3 separate regions of the Homo sapiens genome follow, and all the other regions are reported to be linked to region 1. The links are microRNA targets in miRTarBase. Many come from high-throughput screens and were not tested one by one. Region 1 holds a microRNA gene; each other region holds the end of a gene's coding sequence.
The links. The annotated mature microRNA hsa-miR-548ab reads AAAAGUAAUUGUGGAUUUUGCU and lies in region 1 at 6,130-6,151, opposite strand. An mRNA with a match to its seed (bases 2 to 7 or 8) in the 3' UTR can be bound and repressed. Matches are read on the target gene's strand: a 7mer-m8 pairs with bases 2 to 8, a 7mer-A1 pairs with bases 2 to 7 and ends in A, and an 8mer does both.

Region 1 (8,348 bases):
ATAGTCACCAGACTGTTCAAGGTCAACACTAAAGAAAACATCTTAAAGGCAACTAGTGAGAAAGGTCAGATCATGTATGACAGGAACCACATCAGGGTAACAGTGGACTTCTCAGCAGAAACCTTACAAGCCAGAAGATATTGGGGAGACTGTTTTTGGCATTCTCAAACAAAAGAAATTCAAATCAAGACTTTCATATACCACCAAACAAAGTTTCATAAGCTATCAAAAAATAAAATAGTTTCCAGATAAGCAATAGCTTAGATAATTTGTCACCACTAGACCAGATCCTTCAGGGAGTTTTAAATATAGAAATCCAATAATTAAACCTGTTACCACAGAAACACATTTAAGCACATAGCCCACAGACCCTATAAAGCAAATACACAACAGAAACTACAATGCAACCTGCTAACAACTTTATAATGGGATCAAAACCTCATATATCAATATTAATCTCAAATGTAAGTGATCTAAATGCCCCATTTAAAAGTCTCACAGTGGCAAGTTGTATAATACAAAAAAGACCCATCCATCTGCTGTGTTCAAGAGACCCATCTCACATGTAATGACACCGATAGACACAAGGTAAATAATTGAAGAAAGATACATCATGCAAACAGAAAACAAAAAAAAGCAGCAACCACTATTATTATAACAAATAAAACAAACTTTGAACCAAAAAGAAATAGTAAAAAGGGGAAAAAAAGACATTTTACCTGATGATAAAAAGATCAATTCAACAAGAAGTCTTCACTAACCTAAATACATATGCACCAAACATCAAAGGACCCAGAGTCATTAAACAAGTACTTATAGACTTATAAAAAACTGTAGATAGCAACACAATAATAATAGGGGACTTCAACACCCCACTGACAGCATTAGACAAATCTTTGAGGCAGAAAACTTAAAAAGAAATTCTAGACTTCAATTGTAAACTTGCCCAGTGGAATCTAATAAACATCTACAGGATACTCCACCCATTTACCACAGAATATACATTCTTCTCATGTGCACACAGTACATACTCTAAGCTCAACTACATTCTTAGCCATAAAACAAGGCTTTATAAATTAAAAAAAAAAGGAAATCATACCAACCATACTCTCGAACCAATAGAAAATAGAAAGCAATTCCAAGAAGATCACTCAAAATGGTACAAGTTCATGCAAATTATACAACTTGCTCCTGCCTTACTTTTGGGTAAACAACAGAGTTAAGGCAGAAATTAAAAAATATTATTTAAAATAAATGAAAACAAAGACACAGCTGCCAAAATCTACGACATGTAGCAATAGCAGTGTTAAAAGAAAGTTTATAGCATTAAATGCCTGCATTGAAAAGTTAGAAAGATTTCATTTAATGAACTAAAATCACAACTACAGGAACTAGAAAAACAAGAACAAAATAACCCCAAAGCTAGTATAAAAAAAGAATTAATTAAAATCAGAGTAAAACTGAATGAAATTGAGACCCCAAACTCTTACAAAAGATCAATTTAAACAAAAGTTGCTTCTTTAAATAGACAAACAAGATCAATAAACGGCTAGCTAGGTTAACAAAGAAACAAAGAGAGTAGATACAAATAAGCACAATCAGAAATGACAAAGGTGACATTGCCACTGATCTCACAGAAATACAAAAGGTCCTCAGTGACTATAATGAACACCTCTAGGCACACAGACTAGAAAATCTAGAGGAAATGGATACATTGCTGGAAACGCACAAGCTCCCAAAATTGAATCAAGAAGAAATTGAAACTCTGAATAGATTCTGTAATTTAATCATTAATAAAAAACCTACCAATCAAGAAAAAACCCTAGACTAGATGACTGTACAACTGAATTCTACAAGGCATACAAAGAAAAGCTGGTACCAATTCTACTGAAGACATTCTGCTCCCCCACCCCCCAAAAAAAATAAATCAAGGAAGGACTCCTTTCTAAGTCATTCTATGAAGCCAGCATTACCCTGATGCCAAAAACCTGGCAAAGATACAACAATAAAAAAACTACAGGCCAATATCCTTGACATATATGAAAAAACCCTCAACAAAATACTAGCAAACCTAATCTGGCAGAATATTCAAGGTTAATTTATCATGATCAAGTAGACTTTATCCCTGAGATGCAAGTTTGCTTCAACATATACAAATCAATAAATGTGATTCACCCTATAAATAGAATTAAATCCAAAAATCCTATGATCATCTCAATGGAAGCAAAAGGGTTTTTGATAAACTCCAACATCTCTTATCTCTTTGACATCTTTTATCTCTTCATGATAAAAACTCTCAACAATCTAGGTATTGAAGGAATATACCTCAAAATAACAAGAGTCATTTATGACAAATCTGCAGCCAACATCTACTCAATAGGCAAAAGATGGAAGCATTCCTATTAAGAACAGGAACAAAATAAGGGATGTTTATTCTCACCACTCCTGTTCAACATAGTATTAGAAGTCTTAGCCAGAGCAATCAGACGAGAAAAAGAAAAAAAAAGGCATTCAAATAAATACAGAAGAAAAACTATCTCTTTTTGCAGAAGATATGCTTGCATACCTAAAAATACTGGGGACTCAACTAAAAGCCTTTTAGAACCCATAACAATTTCAGTAAAGTTTCAAGATTCAAATTTAATGTACAAAAATTTCTATACTCCAACAGGGTTGAAGCTGAGAGCCAAATCTAGAATGAAAACTTATTTACAATAGCCACAAACAATAAAATACTAAGGAATACATTTAGCAAAAAAGGTGAAAGATCTCTACAAGGAGAACTATAAAACACTGCTAAAAGAAATCAGAGATGACACAAATAAATGAGAAAACATTTTATACTCATGGAATGAAGACACAATATTATTAAAATTGCCAAAGTTCCTAAAGCAATTTATAGGTTCAGAACTGTTTCAAAGGCATGACATTACCCAATTCCAAACTACATTATAAGGCTATGGTAACTCTAACAGTATGGTAGTAGTACTAAAACAGACACACAAACCAATGGAACAGAATAGAGAACCCAGAAATAAAACTGCACACCTACCACCAACTGATTCTTGAAAAAAGTAAACAAAAAGTAACAACAGGGAAAGGACCACTTATTCAATAAACAGTGCTGGAAGAACTGGCTAGCCATATGCAGAAGAATGAAACTGAATCCCCCCCACCCCATTTTTACCATAGACAAAAATTAACTCATGATAGATTAGATATTTAAATATAAGACCTCAAACTACATAAATCCTAGAAGAAAACCTAGGAAATACCATTCTAGATAGCTTAGGCAAAGAATTTATTGCTAAGTCCTCAGAAGTAATTCCAACAGAAGTAAAAGTTGGCAAGTAAGACCTAATTAAACGAAAGAGGTTTTGCACAGAAAAAGAAATTGTTAACAGTGTAAACTGACAACATATAGAATGGGAGAAAATATTCACAAACTATGTATCTGACAAATGTCTAATATCCAGAATCAATAAAGAACTTAAACACATCAGCAAGCAAAACCCAAACAAACAATAACAACAAAACATTTTAAAACGGGCAAAGGACATGAACAGGCACTTCTCAAAAAAGACATACAAGTGACTAACACACATATGAAAAAAAAAAGTTCGCCATAAGAGAAATGTCAATCAAAACCACAATGAGATATCATCTCATACCAGTCAGAATGGCTATTGCTAAAAAGTAAAAAAAAGTAATAATAACAGATGTTGGAGAGGCTGTGGAAAAAAATGACATGCTTACACACTGTTCGTGGTGATGTAAATTAATTCAACCACTGTGGAAAACAGTTTGGAGATTTCTCAAAAATCTTAAAGCAGAACTACTATTTTACATGACAATTTCATTACTGGGTATAAACCCAAAGGAAAATAAATCGTTCTGCCTAAAAGGCATGTTATGACATGTATATGTTCATTGCAGCACTACTCACAATAGCAAAGACATTGAATCAACCTAGGCACCCATGAAAGGTTGACTGGAAAAAGAAAATATGACACATGTACACATGGAATACTACCTAGCCATAAACAAGAATGAAATCATGTCCTTCACACCAATATAGATGCAGTTGCAGGCTAGAATCCTAGGCAATTAACACAGGAACAGAAAACCAAATACTGCATTTCTCACTTATACATGGGAACCAAACACTCAGTACACATGGACATAAAGATGGAAGCAATGGACAATGGGGACTAGTGGAATAAGGAAAGAAAAATGGGGTGAGGCCTGAAAGGACTGCCTATTGGGTGTGCTCACTGGGTGTCAGTGTCATTTGTACATCAAACCTAAGCATCACACAGTGTCCTAATGTGACAGGCCTTCACATATACCCCCTGAATCTAAAATAAAAGTTGAAATTATTTTTTTAAAAAAGAAAATGTGGTATGTATACACACAAGGGACTACTATTCAGCCATGAAAAGGATGAAATGTCATTTGACACAACTTGGATGAACCTGCAGGATATTATGTTAAGTGAAATAAGCTAGGCACAGAAAGACAAACACCTCATTATCTCACCCGTATTTGGAATAAAAAATCTTCATCTCATTGAAGTTGAGAGTAGAACAGTGGTTTCTAGAGCTGAGGAGAGTGGGGTAAGGGGAGATTAGAGGAGGTTGGTCAATAGGTACAATGTTACAGTGAGATAGAAGGAATAATTTCTGGTACTCTTGCATAGTATGGTGACAATAACAATAATGCATAGTGTATTTCAAATAAGTAGAAGAGAGAATTCTGAATATTCTTACAATAAAAAGATAAATATCTATGGTGATGTGTGTGCTAATTATCATGATTTAATGATTATGTGTATATACATATTGAAACATTACATGTATACCATATAAATATGTATAATTATTATGTGACAATAAAATATATTTTCAGATAGTATCATTTCATATATTCAGGGTTAAAATATATTACTAAAATTAATTTTATTTGTTTTCTCTTACTTTTTTAAGTAACTTTTTAAAATTACATGTGTGGCTCTATTTTGGGACTCACATTGTATTTCTGTTGGATGGTAGTTCTCTACAAAACAAAAACAAATAAAAATTGTCATGAACTTCATTACCCCTTGACAGGATAGCAATGTCAGGTAGAAAGCATGGGATGAGGATAGTGCCGTCAGGTAGAAAGCATAGGATGAGGATAGCGCCGTCAGATAGAAAGCATGGGATGAGGATAGCACCGTCAGGTAGAAAGCATGGGATGAGGATAGCGCCCTCAGATAGAAAGCATGGGATGAGGATAGCACCGTCAGGTAGAAAGCATTGCTTCCAAGATGTCTTAGTGATGCAGAGAGCTAATGAGCACAGGGTCCTGGCAAAGCAACCCTGGCTTATCTAACCGTTTCCATTCTTCATATGGGGGTTAAATACTCAGGACAGGAAACAACAGAATTTTACACATTTTATCTTAATTTCTAATGCTGTGTGAGTGTAGAATTCCTTGTATAAGTATGAGAAAACAGAATGTAATTATCAGATATATGAAAACATACAGCAATTCATAAGAAGACACCATGGGAAGAACCAAATCAAATGTCCAAATGTCTTTTTATTAAATAAAATCTCTTCATTCACAAACAAGAAGATCCAATAGAACATTGTATCTATATAGCTAGAAAATGCAGACAAAGAGAAAAAAATGGACCAGGACAGAATGTGTGAAGACAAAAATATTTAAAACTAATATATCAAATATAGTGAAAGCAGAGGTGAATTTTCCAAAGAAATAATAAAGCTTAAGCTTTGGGGGCACCTCCCTAGCCAAGGCTTCTTCTGAGACTCTGGAAGATGTCTTGCAAGTTTGTATTAATGTCTTAATATTTGTTTAAAAAAAAAAGAGAGTCCTCAGTTGTGTAAACATGAGGCTCTGCAATGCCTGTATCAGACCCTGGCACAGTGAAAGGCTAATTGTAATCTGCAATCATATATCTACCTCTACCCACAGATAGTCACTGAACACCTGATTTATATCAGGTAATCTGAGGAAGAGGTGGTGAGCCAATACACTGCTGACCTAGCCCCAATGGAACATGCTTTCTATTAGGTTGGTGCAAAACTAATTGCGGGTTTTGCATTACAAATAAATACAAGTAATAGCAAAATCCACAATTACTTTTGCACCAACATAATGGATGGAAAAAACAGATTATAGACATGTTATTGTAAATAAATAAATAAATAAATAGAGATCTACAGCAAACAAAACTAGTATAAAGAATTCACCCACCCAATATATCGGCTCATTCCATTTCTAATTGCCCAGTATTTAGAATATCCAATTGGGCTTCCAAGATATAATACACAAATAAGTTAATTGATTCAATTTCTCACAGTAGACTATGTGTTAATTTGAGAAATGAACACCATGAGTGATTCTCATAGTTTATGTATGTAAATACAAGTAAACATGAGTGCACAAATACACACAAGTATACACATATATGCACACATAAAGCTTCAATTTTATTATGGGGTTTTGGATATTTCATTTATCTTCTTTGAACTTAACCATGTTTTCAATAATTTGGGTACTAAATTGGTATTATACTTTAATCAAAAGAAATATTATTAAAACCCTAAATTTTCTTCATAAAAAGTATTTTTCCTCTCAAAATGTCCTACTAGAGGAGTAGTGTGAATTTGTAAACATTGCTTGGAGTTGTATAGGTATGCAGGCAGAATTTCATAGACCATATCACAGTTACAAGCTTGCCATGATTCCACAGCCATCTTCACATGCACTATCAATTTGCCTGGCCAGTTGGAAATAATAGATATGGAAGAGAAAGAAGGGTGGTGCTCCTCCTTTTCTGCTTCTCTAATTGACTGTGAAAAATGGATTCCTGCAACAATGTTGATCAAATTTACTCTATTTGATATTATTTACCTGAAGAAGGGGACTTCTTTCAAAAACAAAGGGGAAAATCTAATGCAAAGGTAAATATATCAGCACATATATTAAATATTTTTATTTTATTTACCAAATGGAATAAAAGGAAAAAAGAGGTAGGCTAATGGCACACCGAAGAATAATTGAAAACATGTTTAATCATTTGTTTGTCCACAAAGCAAAGGACAAATGCAAATTTGATTACAAAGAGTGGTGGAAAAGGTAAACAACAGTTTGGAAATTATTTCTAGTTATTCTTCAGAATCAATGAATAAAGAAAAGAAGTATGAAAGTAATAATGAATTAAAATGTGTGTTTCCTTGTTAAAGTGAAATGATTTTGGGGTGCTGAAAGTGAACCCCATATTTCTCCCCACTTTCAGATAATTGCCTGATTTATGGCTACTGATACAATCATTGCCATATCCAGGTTTTAGAGTCAAATAGTTTATGACTCGGTACTGTGTGCTGCCAGGCTAATCTTTCCTGTTGGCAAATCTCCACATGGTTTGACTGAGGGTCACCAGGTAGCTTTCCATGCTCAAAATTTGCCTGCTTTGTAGGTGTCAAATAACCAGACATTCTATTAGGGGGAATTCTTTCCTATGGAATAAAGTATTAAATGCTAATATGAGGAAGTAGAAAAATATAAAAGCACCATCCACATTTAATACATGATTAAAACATACTGAATACTTTCCAAGTGGTTGATAACCAAGAGCAAGAACTCACTTGGAATCGGGGTTACAGCAGATAAGTTTTGATAGGCAACATGTGGAGAGACCAAGAAGTGCCTCAATGTGATGGCAAAGTTGAGATGGAAGAAACATGTCAGGGATAGGATGGGGACCTAACTGTATAAATGAGGATAATGAAAAGGGAAAGAGGTTTTATATATGGAAAATAAACTATCTATAGCTAGCAGTAGTAACTGAGATTGCTTAGTCTAATAAAAGGTGACTGGAAGTAGGTGATTGGTAGAGGTTAAAAAATAAAAGGCAGTCTGGTAGAAAATGGAGTCAACTATTTGAGAGTCCTACAAGAAAAATTCAAAATGAATATGAACAGACTATATTGAGGCAAGTAAATATCAGACTAAAACATTCAGTTAGCTTACCAGTGGCTTCTTTTTCTATCACATATATTTCCCCTTTTCCTCTAGACTTCTATATACACATAGCTGATCTCTCTGTGGGTAGAGGGAGACTTATTCTGACCCTCTTTAATTTCTCTCTGATTCAATGATGGCAATGAAAAATGAAACTTAATATCATCTTTAGAGGAGAAAATACCGAATGATATCAATTTTTATATGTCTCTTGTTAGGTCCTAGAGAAGCAGATGCTGAGACTGAGTTTTTAATGCAAAACGTTGGTAAGGGATCAACATCAGTAAGCAGAAGGGACGAAAGCAGGTTGAGTAGAG
Region 2 (8,348 bases), not on the chromosome of region 1:
TCCCCAACCCAGTTTTCCTGGGCCAAGACTACCATAAGCAGTAAACCAGAGAACCTGATAAATCCAGGAAAATAAAAGTGAAAAATTTCTATTTCAATTTTTATCTGCAGTTTTAGGCTAAAGATTTCAGCTCAGTTCATCCCAGTAATTTCCAACCTTAAAGGATAATCACTATGTGACTGCCACATTAAATTATACATGCATGTATTGATCAATATCTACAATGCCTTATCTGATATTCAAACAACTTGAAAATAAAAAATTTTTCGTTAAAAAAAAAAACCTGGGCCGGGTGAGGTGGCTCACACCTGTAATCCCAGCACTTTGGGAGGCCAAGGCAGGTGGATCACCTGAGATCAGGAGTTCGAGACCAGCCTAGCCAACATGGTGAAACCCTGTCTCTACTAAAAAATACAAAAATTAGCCGGGCATGGTGGTGGGTGCCTGTAATCCCAGCTACTAGGGAGGCTGAGACAGGAGAATTGTTTGAACCTGGGAGGCGGAGGTTGCAGTTAGCCAAGATTGCGCCATTGCATTCCAGCCTGGGCAACAAGAGAGAAACTCTGTCTCACAAAAAAAAAAAAAAAAAAAAAAAAAAGAAACTCTGACATGTGACATGATCTTACATGAGGCTATTTATGATTTTGATTTTGATTTTTTATATATGATTCCTTTATTAGTATTTAAGTGACATCTCTTTACATTTTTTAGTGGTTTCTCCAGGAATTACCACGTTATCTTTAACATACCCCAATCTACCTAGAGTTAATATTGTACTATTTTTAGAATGTAAAATATGAAAACCTTGCTGTTGAAGAGTTTTAATTACCTTCTTTTATTCTTTGTGCTATTCATAAATTTTACATCTGCACATTATATCTTATAATACAGTTAAAATTTTTCCTTTAAATAGTCATTAAGTCTTACAAAGAAATTAAGAGAAAATGGTATTTATAAATATTTGCAGGCAGATTCTTTGGGGCTATGTAAATACACTGTTTCTCCTTTATATTTTACCCACAATTTTTGCATTCTTCAATATATCTTGTCTACAGTAATTATTACTGTGGTGTTCTAGTGGTGATTTTCTATTTTGCATTTATCCCATTAAGGGAGAATGTATCTCAGATCAGAAATATTTGTTTTAATTATGAGATACTGTACTGTGTTACCTTTCTAAGATTAAAAAAAATTATGAACTATAACTGGCTCTAAGGGTTTCTTTTAAGGGAATTATATATTATTTTAGAATTCATGAATCTTTAAATAATGTAGCTGTTGTCTTTTAATTTCATGGTGAATACTAAGACTGGTTTTGTGATAGTTATTCTCTTTATGTAACTTCTACATATCTCTACTGTTAAAAGCTATCTTTTTCTTATGGTAAAATTGGTTTAGAGTGGTTGACAGTTTAAAGAGGGATTTGTGATGATATCTGTTCATTTTCATAGGGTTGGGGAGCAGAATATCACCGGCAGGATGTAACCAGCACCCCATGTTGGATTGAGATTCATCTTCATGGGCCTCTTCAGTGGCTGGATAAAGTCCTTACTCAGATGGGCTCCCCTCTGAACCCCATATCTTCTGTTTCATAATGCAGAAGTATTCTTTTCAATTATATTGTTAGTGGACTTGTTTTAATTTTAGAGAAACTTTGAGTACAGATACTGTGAGCTTACATTGAAAACAGATATTACAGCTTATTTTTTTCTACATAATTGTGACCAATACATTTGTATTTTGTGATGAATCTACATTTGTTTGTATTCATGTTCATGTGATTAACTCTTAGAAGTGTTGTAAAAGATGCAGAGTAAGTATTATGCCCCAGTTCAGAAATTTGGCATTGATCTTAAACTGGAACATGCTTTTACTTTATTGCCCTAACAATTTTTTATTAAATTTATTTGAAAATGCATCACATGATGAAAAATTATAGTAGCTTATAAGAGGGCATATACAGTGAAGAGTAAGTTTTCCCTCCTACTCTCGATCTTCCAGAAGCTGTACTTTTACCAGTTTCTTTGTCCCACCAACTTAAAAAAAAAAAGTACAATTCATTGTTTTGCAAAAGTGTATGGTAGGGGCTTAAAAGAAACTATAAAGTTTTATTTGAATGAACACTATGCACTGCTGTAACTGGTAGTGTTCAGTAAAAGCAAAATGATAGTTTTCTAGATGACATAAAATTTACATTTAATACAGATAAGTGTTCTTCAGTGTAATGTGACTTCATGCTATATATCTTTTGTAAGACATTTCCTTTTTTAAAAAAATTTTTGCAAATAACTGATCTCAAGTATATGTCATTTACTCAAAATCTGTCATAAGCATTACTTTATAGCTAGTGACAGTGCATGCACAGCCTTGTTCAACTATGTTTGCTGCTTTTGGACAATGTTGCAAGAACTCTATTTTTGACATGCATTAATCTTTTATTTTGCACTTTTATGGGTGACAGTTTTTAGCATAACCTTTGATAAAATACACTCAAGTGACTTGGACTTAGATGCTTATCCTTACGTCCTTGGTACCTTTTTTGTATTAACAAACACTGCAATTTATAGATTACATTTGTAGGAAGTTATGCTTTTTTCTGGTTTTTGTTTTACTTTCAACCTAGGTTATAAGACTGTTATTCTATAGCTCCAACTTAAGGTGCCTTTTTAATTCCCTACAGTTTTATGGGTGTTATCAGTGCTGGAGAATCATGTAGTTAATCCCATTGCTCTTACAAGTGTCAGCTTACTTGTATCAGCCTCCCTACGCAAGGACCTATGCACTGGAGCCGTAGGAGGCTCTTCAGTTGGGCCCCAAGGATAAGGCTACTGATTTGATACTAAATGAATCAGCAGTGGATGTAGGGATAGCTGATTTTAAAACACTCGGCTGGGCACAGTGGCTCACACCTGTAATCCCAGCACTTTGGGAGGCTGAGGCAGGCAGATCATGATGTCAGGAGTTTGAGACCAGCCTGGCCAATATGGTGAAACCCTGTCTCTACAAAAAATACAAAAATTAGCTGGGCATGGTGGTGCGTGCCTGAAGTCCCAGCTACTCGGGAAGCTGAGGCAGAAGAATCACTTGAACCTGGGAGGCGGAGGTTGTGGTGAGCCGAGATCGCACCACTGCACTCCAGCCTGGGCGACAGAGCGAGACTCTGCCTCAAAAAACAAAACAAAACAAAACACTCACCCATCAACGAATATAGACTCTTCTCTCATTTATCGATGATCCTCTTTTTCCATTTTTTAAGTACTTATGTGGAAGCTAGTCTCCCAAAACACAATCTTTAGAGAGAAAAGACATGAACGAACTCCAAAATATCCATTTAATCAATCATGTTTTTGGCTTTGGATAAAGAACTTTGAACCAGTTTTTTTCTCAGGAGCTGTCAAATGGACACTTAATTATGACATGAGAATGAAGAAATTATTTTGGAAAAAAAAAATGACCTAATTTACCTATCAGTGAAAGCTTTATTTTCTGGTGCCTTTTGAAAGTATATGGAGTCATATCATTCTTCTGTTTAAAATGTTAGTTTGGTTTGACTTTCCACTTTGTCCTTTCTGCTCTTGTGAAGAAAAAAAAAAGCATTTTCGAGGAAAGAATTATGCAATTTCTTTTGTTTTCTGTGTCATTATTTATTGCTTTTTCAATGTGCAGCCAGTGGATGGTTTTAGTTCTTTCAGATGAACTGCCATTTGTGTTTCAGCTCACAGTTCTTTGCTGGGTAAAAGAAATACTTTCTGACAGTCACCTGAGCCTTAAATGTAAGTATTACATGACATGCATTCTGTTTCTTCCAGAGTTCTGTCTGCCACACGAAAGAGAATATTTGCTTACTTGATAGAACTTTGGCATTTTCATCATTCTTTTACTTAACCAGGCTTATGGCATGATCTCTGGAACAAATTTGTAGGAAAAAATTACTCCAATTGAATGACTGATGTATGTAATCAACTTCATTGGGCTGCAGTAAACTAGTGGAAATTAGAGAGTTGTTTTATTGGTGTTTTCTACTGTGAGTTAATTAAAAATTGTTTTTATTTGGGGTCATTATGTCACAGTCTTGAGTTAACAAGATCTTACGTGATTGGCCTTTTCTTTGTTTTCTCTTAGGAGTTGTGTCTCATGAATGACAGTACTAAAGCTATTAACAACTAAGAGTTTGACAGAGAACTATAAGCCTGTTGTATCTCCTAAAAGTTGTCAACTCCCCACCCTTGGACTTTAAATGAAAATTTTATTCAGTCCAGCTATTCTTACAGTCCCTAAGGATTTTCATATATCTATGTATAGGAGATAAAATTTGCTAGTAAGATTTTTAAAAACTGGCTAGTGAAAGGAAAGTACCTCTGAAAGAAACCATTTTAGCAAATTATGGTTATATGTTTTAATTTAATCTACAGAATGTTTTATAGTAAAATTCTAGCACCACTAGAATAATCACATAGCATGTACAATATATTTATGCTGGCTGAAAAGACAGAATCTGGGAATAATAAAATTGCAACCAGTTTGGTAATGCAAACAGCAGAATAGAATGAAATCTCAGTAATGAATTAAAGCAACAAAAAGATATTGATTGGCAAAAAGCAAGATATAAGAGATTCATTTGCTTAACATTTCTACATAATATTTATGGTCTGGTCAGTATTGGTCTGGTCAGTATTGCCTGGCTGACGTGAAATGTAAACTAGTAGGCGTGTTATTGATCTGCTAAAACTAACCCTCTTTTTAAGAGGAGATTTAAGGAAGACGTCAATCAAAATGTCAAATATGTGTGTCAGAATATAAATAATTTTTCACATTGTATTGTTGCTATATAAAAAAAATAATAGAATTGGTTGGGTTTCTGAGGTGAAATCCAGAGTAAGAGTACTAGACAGTTCAACAAGCCACATCTAATGGCACAGATAGAGGATGTAGCTATTTTATACCTTTCATAACATTTGAGAGTAAGATATCCTTCAGGATGTGAAGTGATTATTAAGTACTCATACCTGAAATCTGTTGTCAAGATTAGAACTGGGGTTCATGTTAAAAACCTTCCATATTACCTGAGGGTACCTGTGGGGAACAGTTCCTTCCCCTGTGTGGTAGTATTTTGTTGGAAGAGAATGTTTATACAAAAAATGAAATTCTTCCAACAGCAGAGAAACTCTAAAAAGTTTGATAGTACCTATCAAAGTGCTGTACTTCTGTGATAGAGAACATCTGATGTACCAATTTAGATCTATTTCTTTATACTTTTTCTAATCAATTGCTTAATAGTACTTTGGATGATTATCACCTTTGCCACTTAAAATATATAAATATCCTTTTTACTTCATGAGGAAGGAAGAATTTTTTGATAATTACTGAGTTCAGCCTTTTGTGATGACTTATATTTTGGACTTACATTTTAACTTTAAAGAATGTCAGATCCCTTCTTTGTCTTACTAGTTAAATCCTCACCTAATCTCTTGGGTATGAATATAAATGTGTGTCATCGTTATATTGTTCAGCTAGATGAGCAAGTATCTTAGGGTAGTAGGTAGCCTGGTGGTTTTAGAAGTGTTTGGTGATTTTTATGGAGAGAGTTTTCCTAAGTGGTGGTTTATAGGTGGTATCAGATATTATTAGGGCAGCTTTTTGGGGAGTAATCTCAGGTCTCCCAGAGCAGCAGCATTTTTCTCATTGATATAAGTAAGATTCTTAGGAGCTTTTCTTATCACACAAGATGCCTGAATCGAATGTGAGAATTGAAGGCATTTCTTCTGCATAAACAAAGAATTCTACCTGCTGGACAGAAACCTGGAAAGTTCTTTGGAATTCGCTGAATTACAGTTTAGTATGTCCTGATTACAGAGTGACAATATTTATCAAGCCTTTGTTATATTGGATTATCTTCTCTCTTAAAATACAACTGTATTATAATTGAAATGACAGCCCAAAATTGGATGGTTTACCAAAACCAATGAAAGGGATTTCACACATCAATTTTTATTTCTGTTTTGAAGAGCACATGCTATATAATAATTGCTAGTAGCAACTGCAGTAAAACAGGTGATAAGTTATTTTCTCTGAAAAGATCCAGTCCTAGAGCAGGATTCTTCGATCATTCATGGCAGAGTGAAAAAGGTTTGTATGGTTCTTGTCCAAATAACTCAGTTCTTAAAATTCTTAAAATGATCGTAAACCATTATCCTTTAAAGGTTTATTTGAAGATGCTGTTAAAGTACAGAATTTTGTGTACAGGTAGATTTTTCCGTCCCTCATTAATAGTGCCTTCTTAATTAATACAGACTGGTGTTAGCTATAACAAAACTCCAGTAAGGCCAAAGAATCCCAAGTTCTTTGTGGAAAAAAAAAAAAAATCTTTTAGGGTCAGATTTTCCCTTCTAATATCATTGAAGATGATGTTGCATTGATTTATTCATAAAGTATTTTAACTATAGGAACTCTAGAAGATAATGGTTAGGCAAGTGATTTTTTTTTTAAATATGGTTGGCGTAAGTTGTATTTTGAAATTCACTTATTTTAAAATCGAAGAGGATTGTAATCATGGAAATAGAATGTTTGTATCTACCTGCCCACATTTTCTTAAAAAGATATTTCATATACAGATAATGAAGACCAAGCTAGTGGCTGCACTGTAGGTCTGCTGCTTATTTGTATTTGTTGTGCTTCTGTTTATGTTGTAGAAGCTGAAATTCTAGCAACATGCTTCAATTCTGTTATTTTGATACTTATGAAAATGTATTAGGTTTTACTATATTGTGCTTTTGAAAGCCATAACTCTTAAGAACTTTGTTTTTGCATATTGTTTGCTAATTCTTTACTTTAATAAACCTCAAAACCTGCTTAATGTGTCTTTTTTTGTTTTGGCTCTGGAGTTGGCCTGCCTGCGTTTGAGTCATGGGCCTCATAGCTTAGACAAGTTGCTTAACCACTCTATGCCTCACTTTCCTGACCTGTAAAGGAAAAGTCTACTTCATAGGAAGGATTTGAGGGAAGATTAATTGAAGTGTAATACAAATACAGTATTTAGAACAGTACTTAGAACATAAGAACTCAAATATTAAAATTGTTACTATCTTTTACATTTCCACTAGTTCTTTGATTCAGAATAATTACTTCTTATGTTGCTTGACCTCGGTGTATCAACCTTTGATGATCCACTTTGTGAATTTACAATTTTTTATTTCCTTTTGTCTTCTTTTTTGAAAAAATTTTAAATCACAGACTGACTTTGCATCATTGTCACTGTGTTGCACACTTTTACCAACCTCTGAATTACATATACAAGACATGCAAACTCATTCTAATTAGAAAGGAATGGTGAGCGAGGCACAGTGGCTCAGGCCTGTAATCCCAGCTTTTTGGGAGGCTGAGGCAGGTGGATCACCTAAGGTCAGGAATTCAAGAGAAGCCTGGCCAACATGGTGAAACCCCGTCTCTACTAAAAATCCAAAAATTAGCCGGGTGTGGTGGCGCGTGCCTGTAATCCCAGCTACTTGGGAGGCTGAAGACAGGAGAATCGCTCGAACCCAGGAGGTGGAGGTTGCACTGAGCCAAGATCATGCCATTGTACTGCAGCCTGGGCAACAAGCGATACTGCGTCTCAAAAAAAAAAAAAAAAAAAAAAAAGGAATGGTGAAAAATCATGTGCCCTTGCCAGAAATGTAGAAAAACCCAAACTACATATTAACCCTAAAGGATAAAGATAAAAGCACTTGTTCTTTTTTTTTTTTTTTTTTTTTTTAATAGATAAAAAAGACTCTATTCAAGCTTGTCCAGCCTGCACACATGGGCTGCATGTGGTCCAGGACAGCTTTGAATACGGCCCAACACAAATTGGTAAATTTTCTTAAAGCATTATGAGATTGTTTTGCGAGTTTTTTTTCTTTTTTTTAGCTCATCAGCTATCGTTAGTGTTAGTGTGTTTTATGTGTGGCCCAAGATAATTATACTTCACTGTGGCCTAGGGAAGCCAAAAGATTGGACATTCCTACCAATTTCTGAGAATCAGTTCCTTCCTATGTCTTTTTACTTAAAAGGCATTTTGTAAGGTATTTTGTAGCAACATCACTGGTTGTTTTAGAAGTGTATTTTTTAAAAAAGCACACTTGTCCTAGCGGAAGAAGGTTCAGTGAGCACTAAGAGGATGTTGGCTTCTCTTGGGTTTAAGATAATTAGTTTTCAGGTTGCTGTAGCCAAAACAGTTCAGGTGATGAGGGGTTGGGACAGTGGCTAATACTATTTTGTATTACAGCAGTTTTGATGCAGCTATCGTTTTATAAACATTTTTAAGATTGTCAGTAGACTGCAGCAATGCTTATAAGGAAGATTTATTTAGAGCT
Region 3 (8,348 bases), not on the chromosome of region 1:
TGTCCTGAATTTACACTCCTATAATCTAGAGCAAATTGATACCAAACTTTCAAAGCGACTTACCTGTCCTATTTCTAACTTTCTCGTTGTCTTTAATAGCCACAGAGAAGATCCGCGAGGTTGTCTGCTGTAAGTGTATGCTTTTGAATTTTCGTGCTTGTCCCTGAAACTAAAAAACATCAAAAAACAATTCCCTTTGCTTCCATGAATTATGGTTAGTGCCTGGTTTTGAATCATTGCCTCTACTTGGGACTCTTGCCCCTTTGGGTTTTGCTGGTTCTGAAATTCTGATGCCTGTAGCCAAAGTGGGACATTTGAGTGGGCTTCTGGAAATCCAACATTCTAGAAGAAAGCCAACCACAAAAACTTTTGAGGAGGAGGAGAAACTTCTCTACCCTTGGTACTTTTGGTTGGTTGTGGGTGGTTTTCTTCAGTCCATTGTACTGATGTTCACTTTTTCCTCTCTTCCTGCCAAAAAAAGAAACCTGCTCCTCCAAAGCCAGAGCCCAAGCCTAAAAAGGCCCCTGCAAAGGTAAGTGCTAACATTGGAACTGATCATTTTCACAGAATGAGGACTGTCCTTAGTGCCTTAACTTAATTAGCATAATGGTGCCTCCATTAATGGAGGTTATAAACTGTGTGGATAGCTTACCTCGTCCGTGTCATTCATAACGTTGGTTTCCTGATCAAGAATTCTGTTGTTAGTTTATAGGAAAATCTGCATTTAAATATTAAATACCCCAGGGTTTAAACTAATTTATTCTTCTGTTACTTAGGAAATTCTAAGTACTAAAGATTATAGCAAATTACAGATAATTTAGCCTAGTTTTGATCAGTTGTTCTTGTCAAATGGGTGAGGGTTTGTGTTTTATCTTGAGTAAACAATCCTACCTTGTGCAGAACTTTGCAGACCATACCTTGGTAATACGAAATGGGGAGAAACAGTTCTATTTTTTCCCCTTTTTCAGAAGGGAGAGAAGGTACCCAAAGGGAAAAAGGGAAAAGCTGATGCTGGCAAGGAGGGGAATAACCCTGCAGAAAATGGAGATGCCAAAACAGACCAGGTATAACTGCTGTTTCACCCTTTGTTAGATTTGTTCATTCAGTTAGTTGCTGATATCAAAAATTTAATTGCCCTTTTCTTGTATCACTCCAAATGTACCATTTGGTCCAGTGTGCTTGTGGCTTTCCTGTTAACTTAAATCCTGGATTCTTGAAATCTCTACTGTCAGCTGAAGGGCATTGTGTTTTATACTACATGAAGTTTTCAAGCTAGGAGTAACCTCAGGTCTCTTATTCTGGTGTTCTTCCTACCTCAATTTTACAGTGAGGCCCAGAGGAGAGGTGACTTAGCAAAGTTACCTAGTAAGTCATTCTCAGAAGAAATACTGAGTCTCAGTACCTGAAACCTGAACTTTGGCCTGGGAGCAAAGTGATGCTGTAGGTGGAATGTGAACACAGATAGTTTTGAAATCTACGCATTGCATTAATTTGTCTGTTTTCTTTTAGGCACAGAAAGCTGAAGGTGCTGGAGATGCCAAGTGAAGTGTGTGCATTTTTGATAACTGTGTACTTCTGGTGACTGTACAGTTTGAAATACTATTTTTTATCAAGTTTTATAAAAATGCAGAATTTTGTTTTACTTTTTTTTTTTTTTTAAAAGCTATGTTGTTAGCACACAGAACACTTCATTGTTGTTTTTGGGGGAAGGGGCATATGTCACTAATAGAATGTCTCCAAAGCTGGATTGATGTGGAGAAAACACCTTTCCCTTCTAGTTTTGAGAGACTTCCTCTTGGCTCCCAGGAGGAGGGATTCCCTGACTTTGACACACATGGCCACCTTGGCACAAAAGCCTTGTGGTATAGAAAAACAAATTTGTTTTTATGTCCTCTTCTCCCTTTCCATCGTTCAGCATAGACTTAACTCCCTTAAGCCCAGACATCTGTTGAGACCTGACCCCTAGTCATTGGTTACCAGTGTGTCAGGCAATCTGGACTTTCCAGTGATGCCACTGAGATGGCACCTGTCAAAAGAGCAGTGGTTCCATTTCTAGATTGTGGATCTTCAGATAAATTCTGCCATTTTCATTTCACTTCCTGAAAGTCAGGGTCGGCTTGTGAAAAGTTGTTAAACAACATGCTAAATGTGAAATGTCAACCCTCACTCTAAACTTTCCCTGTTCAGAGCATCAGATGAAGACTTCATTGGGTTTTATAGTGGCTTTCTGATTTTTGGTAGTCCATTGAAGAAGGGAGTTTGAAAGTTGTTGTATACTGTTAACGATTGTCTGCCCATGTCCTGCCTGAAATACCATGATTGTTTATGGAAAGTATCTTTAATAAAGCTGGATACAGTTTGGCTTGGAATGCTGCCTCTGATCTTTTCCCACAAGTGGGGTAACCTGGTTTATCCAAGTCTCTTGGAACAGGGTACGTTCTGCTTTGAGGTACTCCATGTACAGTCTAATGATGATCTTTCACTGATTTATAGTCAGCTTCCAAAACACACAGTGCTAGGTGCAGTTAGGAAGGATTCCAGGAGTAGACTTAGCTGATGGTGAAAGGCTGGGAGTATGGAGTGATTTCTGTACTTGGTTATGCAGCATTCCCTGCAGTGTTTGTTTTTTGCATGACTCCGAATACATGAAGTGTATTAAATGCAGATTTTTGGTAGATCTGCGGTTTTGGCTGGGTAGCTGACAGGAGCCTCTCTACTTCCATCTGCATTTGCAACTTCTATAAAATTAGCAAATTAATAGACTCATGTCAGAGAGTGTCTCTGTGAATGTGTACACAGTTGTCCATTTGTAAGGTAGATGACACTTTGCTCCTAAGTAGACCTGCAAACAAAGACAATGGGGTCTTTCCTGATTCCTTTAGTTTGGAGATGCAGAGAACCCCACGTTTCTCTAAGTGAAATGGCAAGAAGTTATTTGTTAGAATATGGAACTGGTAACAAATTCATGTTTGCACCTTGAATTTGCTTTCACAGACCTGGCTGTATTGTTGGACAGGAATAAAGTAAATTGGAGACTAATTGCTTTGTCCATTCCCTTAGTCAAAAAAGTATCGCTGTTAAGTTCTTGAGGTTTTTTGTGTATTATCTCTCAAGTGTTGAGATGTTTGTGTAATATATGTATCACACTCATGGATGAGGAATCAGGCACAGATGAAACTTGTTGAAGGTTATGTGTACATTTAATGAGCAGCAGAGTCAGGATTCAGACCCTCAACTAGACAAAAGTCATCTCTGACAGACTTTTATTCAGGATAAAATACCATTTGTCCATTTAGCCAGTTACCAGCCATTTACTTTCATTATTGCTGAAGTCATTCATTCTAGGTTGTAGACGGGTAATTTTTATTCTAAAAGCGGTGTCCTCTTCCAGAGGAAACTTAAGAGACATCTTAGAATGGTCAGGGGTAGTGGGCTGGTATTTGAGCAGAGGTTGCAGAATTTGAGAAAGTTACAGCTGAGGTTCTTTGTTAGTGGCAAGTCTGCTAAGCCCTGGGCTATGCTAACAGCTCTGCCTCATGCTCTTTAATCTTTGAGTCAGACCTATGAGATACAGGTGTAGCCCCATTTTGTAGTCGAGAGTGAGGCTCAGATGTGAAGCGACTGGCTGAGGTTAAACTTGATAGTCTGTTTTTACTTATTTTCTGGCCCTCTTCTTGTTGCCATATAATTAGGATGAGTAGGGTAAGCTTGAACTTTTTCGAGTTTTTTTCTTTTTTTCCTTCCTGGAAAATACTGATTTGACTGGCTCTGGACCATGAAAGTAGCTGGGCCTAAAACCAAACCAGACATCAAAACGTGGTAAGGACCATTCACTAAGACAGCCATGGTAGCATGCTCAGTGCCAGCCCTGTCTCCAGGCCCATTCTTAAGATCTCGGGAAAAGTCACCAGATGCTTGGGCTCTAAGTAAAAAAAAAAAAAAAGTAACATAAATGGCACAAACTAGAGGATTCATCTGATACAAGTCCCGAGGTCGGGCAGTTGTGAGGACCCAGGTGGGCTTCCTGTCTTTCTGCTCTGCCGCCCTCAACATGTTCTCCAGCCACCTCACCTTCAAGGCAGTTGCTCCAGACATCGTAATTTGCCATACCAATGGCAAGAGGCTGGAGGACTGCTCCTTTTTTCCCTGCATTTAAGAAGAATGAAATATTTCCTACAAGCACCCCAGCAGCCTGTGTTTCACTGGGCAGATCTGGATTGCCTCTCCACTCCTAAACCAATCATAGCAAGAGGAATGAAACCACAGAATCTGCCTAGACCAGTCAGAATTGTTGGAATTCAATAGAGGAGGGATGATGATAGAGGAAAATGGCTGTTGTGTGGACAGCCTGCTGCACGGTCTCTTCAGGCCTGGCCTGATTCATTGCAGCAGTTAACACTGCTGAGAATTACCCCTCCCCTTCTTTAAATTGAGAAATAATCATATACCATTAAAAGTCACCACTTTGGGGGGAGGGATAGCATTAGGAGATATACGTAATGCTAAATGACGAGTTAATGGGTGCAGCACACCAACATGGCACATGTATACGTATGTAACCTGCACGTTGTGCACATGTACCCTAAAACTTAAAGTATAATAATAATAAAATTTAAAAAATAAATATACTTAACGCTCTTGGGGAAAAAAAAAGTCACCACTATATCATTATTTTAAGAGATGGAGTCTTGTGTTGCCCAGCCTGGTATTCAACTCCTGGGCACAAAGCAGTCCTCCCACCCTGGCCTACCAAAGTGCTGGCCACCACACCCAGCCAAAATTCACAATTTTAAAGCATATACTACAGTGGTTTTAGTACATTCACAACATTGTGCAACTATTGCCACTATCTAATTCTGGAATATATACGTGTGTGTGTGTGTATATATATATATATAAATATATGTGTATATATATATAAATATATGTGTATATATATATAAATATATGTGTATATATATATATATATATATATATATATATATATATATATTTTTTTTTTTTTTGAGATGGGGGTGTCTCACTGTGTCACCCAGGCTGGATTGCAGTGGTATGATCTCAGCTTATTGCTCACCGCAGCATCTACCTCCCAGGCTCAAGCTCCCACCTCAGCCTCCCAAATAGCTAGGACTACAGGCACACACCATGCCTGGCTAATTTTTTGTGTTTTTGGTAGAGACAGGGTTTTGCCATGTTGCCCAGGCTAGAGTCTTGAACTCCTGACCTCAAGTGATCTGCCCACCTTGGCCTCCCAAAGTTCTGGGATTATAGGCATGAACTACCCTGCCCAGCCTCTGAATATTTTCATCACCCCCAAAAAGCTCCATGCCCATTAGCAGTTAACTCCCCATTTCTTCCTCCCCCATCCCTAGACAATCACTAATTACTTTCTGTCTCTCTAGACCTTTTCTGGATATTTCATCTAAATGGAATCAATCTGTGTTTTTTCACGACTGGTTTCTTTCACTTAGCATGTTTTCAAGGTTCATCCGTATCATATGTATTTGATAACTTGTACTGCCAAATAACATTCCATTGTATGGATATATCACATTGGATAAGTCACATTTTATTTACTCATCAGTTGATGTACATTTGGGTGATTTCCACTTTGGGACTATTGTGAATAATGCTGCTACAAATATCATATAGAAGTTTTTGTAGGCATATGTTTTTAGCTCATTTGGGCACATACCTAGGAATGAAATTGCTGGGTCATATGGTAACTCGTACTTTTTTCTTTCTTTCTTTCTTTTTTTGAGACGGAACTTCGCTCTCGTTGCCCAGGCTGGAGTGCAGTCACATGATCTCGGCTCACTGCAACCTCCTCCTCCCAGGTTCAAGCAATTATTCTGCCTCAGCCTCCCAAGTAGCTGGGATTACAGGCATGTGCCACCATGCATGGCTAATTTTTTGTATTTTTAGTAGAGACGGGGTTTCTCCATGTTGGTCAGGCTGGTCTTGAACTCCCGACCTCAGGTGATCACCTGCCTTGGCCTCCCAAAGTACTGGGGTTACAGGTGTGAGCCACCTTGCCCGGCCTTTTCTTTCTTTTTAAGACAGTATTGCTTTTGTCACCCAGGCTGGAGTGCAGTGGCGTGATCTCAGCTCACTGCAGCCTCCCCCTCCTGGGCGATTCTGCTGCCTCAGCCTCCCGAGTAGCTGGGATTACGTGTGCCCACCACCACACCCGGCTAATTGTTTGTATTTTTAGTAGAGACAGGGTTTCATCATGTTGGCCAGACTGGCCTCAAATTCCTGACCTCAGGTGATCTGCCCACCTTGGCCTCCCAAAGTGCTGGGGTTACAAGTGTGAGCCACCATGCCTGGCCTCATTTATTTATTTATTATTTTTTATTTTTTGAGACAGAGTCTTGCTCTGTCTCCCAGGCTGGAGTGCAGTGGTGCAATCTCTGGTCACTGCAACCTCTGCCTCCTGGATTCAAGTGATTCTCCTGCCTCAGCCTCCCGAGTAGCTGGGACTACAGGTGCCCGCCACCACACCTGGCTAATTTTTGTATTTTTAGTAGAGACAGGGTTTCACCATATTGGCCAGGCTGGTCTGGAACTCCTGACCTTGTCGTTGTGATCCGCCTGCCTTGGCCTCCCAAAGTGCTAGGATTACAGGCATGAGTGGGAGCCACCGTACTGGCTTTTTTTTTTTTTTTTTTTTTTTTTGAGACAGTCTTGCTCTCTCGCCCAGGCTGGAGTGCAATGGCGCGATCTCAGCTCACTGCAACCTCCGCCTCCCGGGTTCAAGTGATTCTCCTGCCTCAGCCTCCTGAGTAGCTGGGATTACACGCACCCAACATCATGCCCAGCTAATTTTTGTATTTTTATAGAGAGGGGTTTCACCATGTTGGCCACCAGGCTGGTCTTGAACTCCTGACCTCAGGTGATCTGCCCACCTCAGTATCCCAAAGTGCTGGGATTACAGGTGTGAGCCACTGTGCCCAGCCTGTGCATCTTTTTTTAAAGAAGTGTCTATTCACATCCTTTGCCAAGTTATAATTAGGGAGTGTGTGTGTGTGTTTAACATGCTTCTCAGGAAAGTATTCTTTGTGGGTTGTTTTTATTGTTGAAGTGTAAGAGTTCTTTTCTCTTACTTTTCTTTCTTTTTTTTTTTTTTTTTAGAGTGAGTCTTGCTCTGTCACCCAGGCTGGAGTGCAGTGGCATGATCTCAGCTCACTGCATCCTCTGCCTCCTGGGTTCAAGCAGTTCTCCCTGTCTCAGCCTCCAGAGTAGCCGGGATTACAGATGACCACAACTGTGCCCGGCTAATTTTTTTCTATTTTTAGTAGAGACGGGGATTCACCATATTGGCCAGGCTGGTCTCGAACTCCTGACCTCAGGTGATCCGCCTGCCTCGGCCTTCCAAAATGCTGGGATTACAGGCATGAGCCACCTTTTCTATTCTTTCTTTTCTTTTATTTTCAGACGGTCTCGCTGTGTCCCCCAAGCTAGAGTGCAATGGTGCAATCTCGGCTCACTGCAACCTCTGCCTCTCAGGCTCAAGAGATTCTTATGCCTCAGCCTCCCAAGTAGCTGGGATTACAGGCAATGCACAACCACGCCTGGCTAATTTTTGTATTTTTAGTAGAGACAGGGTTTTGCAATGTTGGCCAGGCTGATCTTGAACTTCTGACCTCAGATGATCCGCCCACCTCAGCCTCCCAAAGTACTGTGATTACAGGCGTGAGCCCCTGCCCCTGGCCTCAGAGTTCTTTATGTATATATATGTGTGTGTGTGTGTAGTTTTTGGTTTTTGATTTTTGAGACAGGATCTAACTGTGTCTCCCAGGCTGGAGTGTAGTTGTGCAAACACAGCTCACTGCAGTGTTGATCTGGGCTCAAACAATCCCCCCTTGTAGCCAGGACTACAGGCGCACACAGCACCATGTCCAGCTAGTTTTTTGTTTGGGCGGGGTTTTTGAGGCAGAATCTCAACTCCGTCCCCCAGGCTGGAGTGCAGTGGTGCAATCTTCATTCATTGCAAACTCCGCCTCCCGGGTTCAAGAGATTCTTATGCCTCAGTCTTCCGAGCAGTTGGGATTACAGGCGTGCGCCACCGTGCCCAGATAATTTTTTTTGAGACCAAGTCTTGCTCTGTCACCAGGCTGGAGTGTAGTAGCGGGATCTCAGCTTACTGCAACCTCCGCCTCCCAGGTTCAAGTGATTCTCCTGTTTCAGCCTTCCAAGTAGCTGGGATTACAGGCGCCTGCCACCATGCCCGGCTAATTTTTGTATTTTTAGTAGAGACCAGGGTTTCACCATGTTGGCCAGGCTGGTCTTGAACTCCTGACCTTAGGTAATCTGCCCACCTCCCAAAGTGCTGGGATTACAGCCTT

Region 2: the mRNA of SMAD5 is a reported target of hsa-miR-548ab. Seed matches in the 3' UTR shown: 8mer at 1,871-1,878, 8mer at 2,334-2,341, 7mer-m8 at 2,609-2,615 and 8mer at 6,824-6,831.
Region 3: miRTarBase lists HMGN2 as a target of hsa-miR-548ab. Seed matches in the 3' UTR shown: 7mer-m8 at 1,640-1,646.

Annotation. Positions count from the first base shown.
Region 1 is chr3:103,517,956-103,526,303 of GRCh38, forward strand. MIR548AB (microRNA 548ab) reads right to left here and starts at 6,161; the gene lies at 6,078-6,161.
Region 2 is chr5:136,175,886-136,184,233 of GRCh38, forward strand. SMAD5 (SMAD family member 5) reads left to right here. Exons shown (of 8, transcript NM_005903.7): 8 at 1,452-6,848. The coding sequence ends at 1,595. Among named protein-coding and RNA genes, the nearest start is that of SMIM32, 13 kb to the right of the region's middle.
Region 3 is chr1:26,473,604-26,481,951 of GRCh38, forward strand. It overlaps HMGN2 (high mobility group nucleosomal binding domain 2), which reads left to right. Exons shown (of 6, transcript NM_005517.4): 3 at 100-129; 4 at 482-532; 5 at 969-1,064; 6 at 1,510-3,039. The coding sequence ends at 1,545. Among named protein-coding and RNA genes, the nearest start is that of HMGN2, 5.3 kb to the left of the region's middle. RefSeq lists a silencer at 5,341-5,541.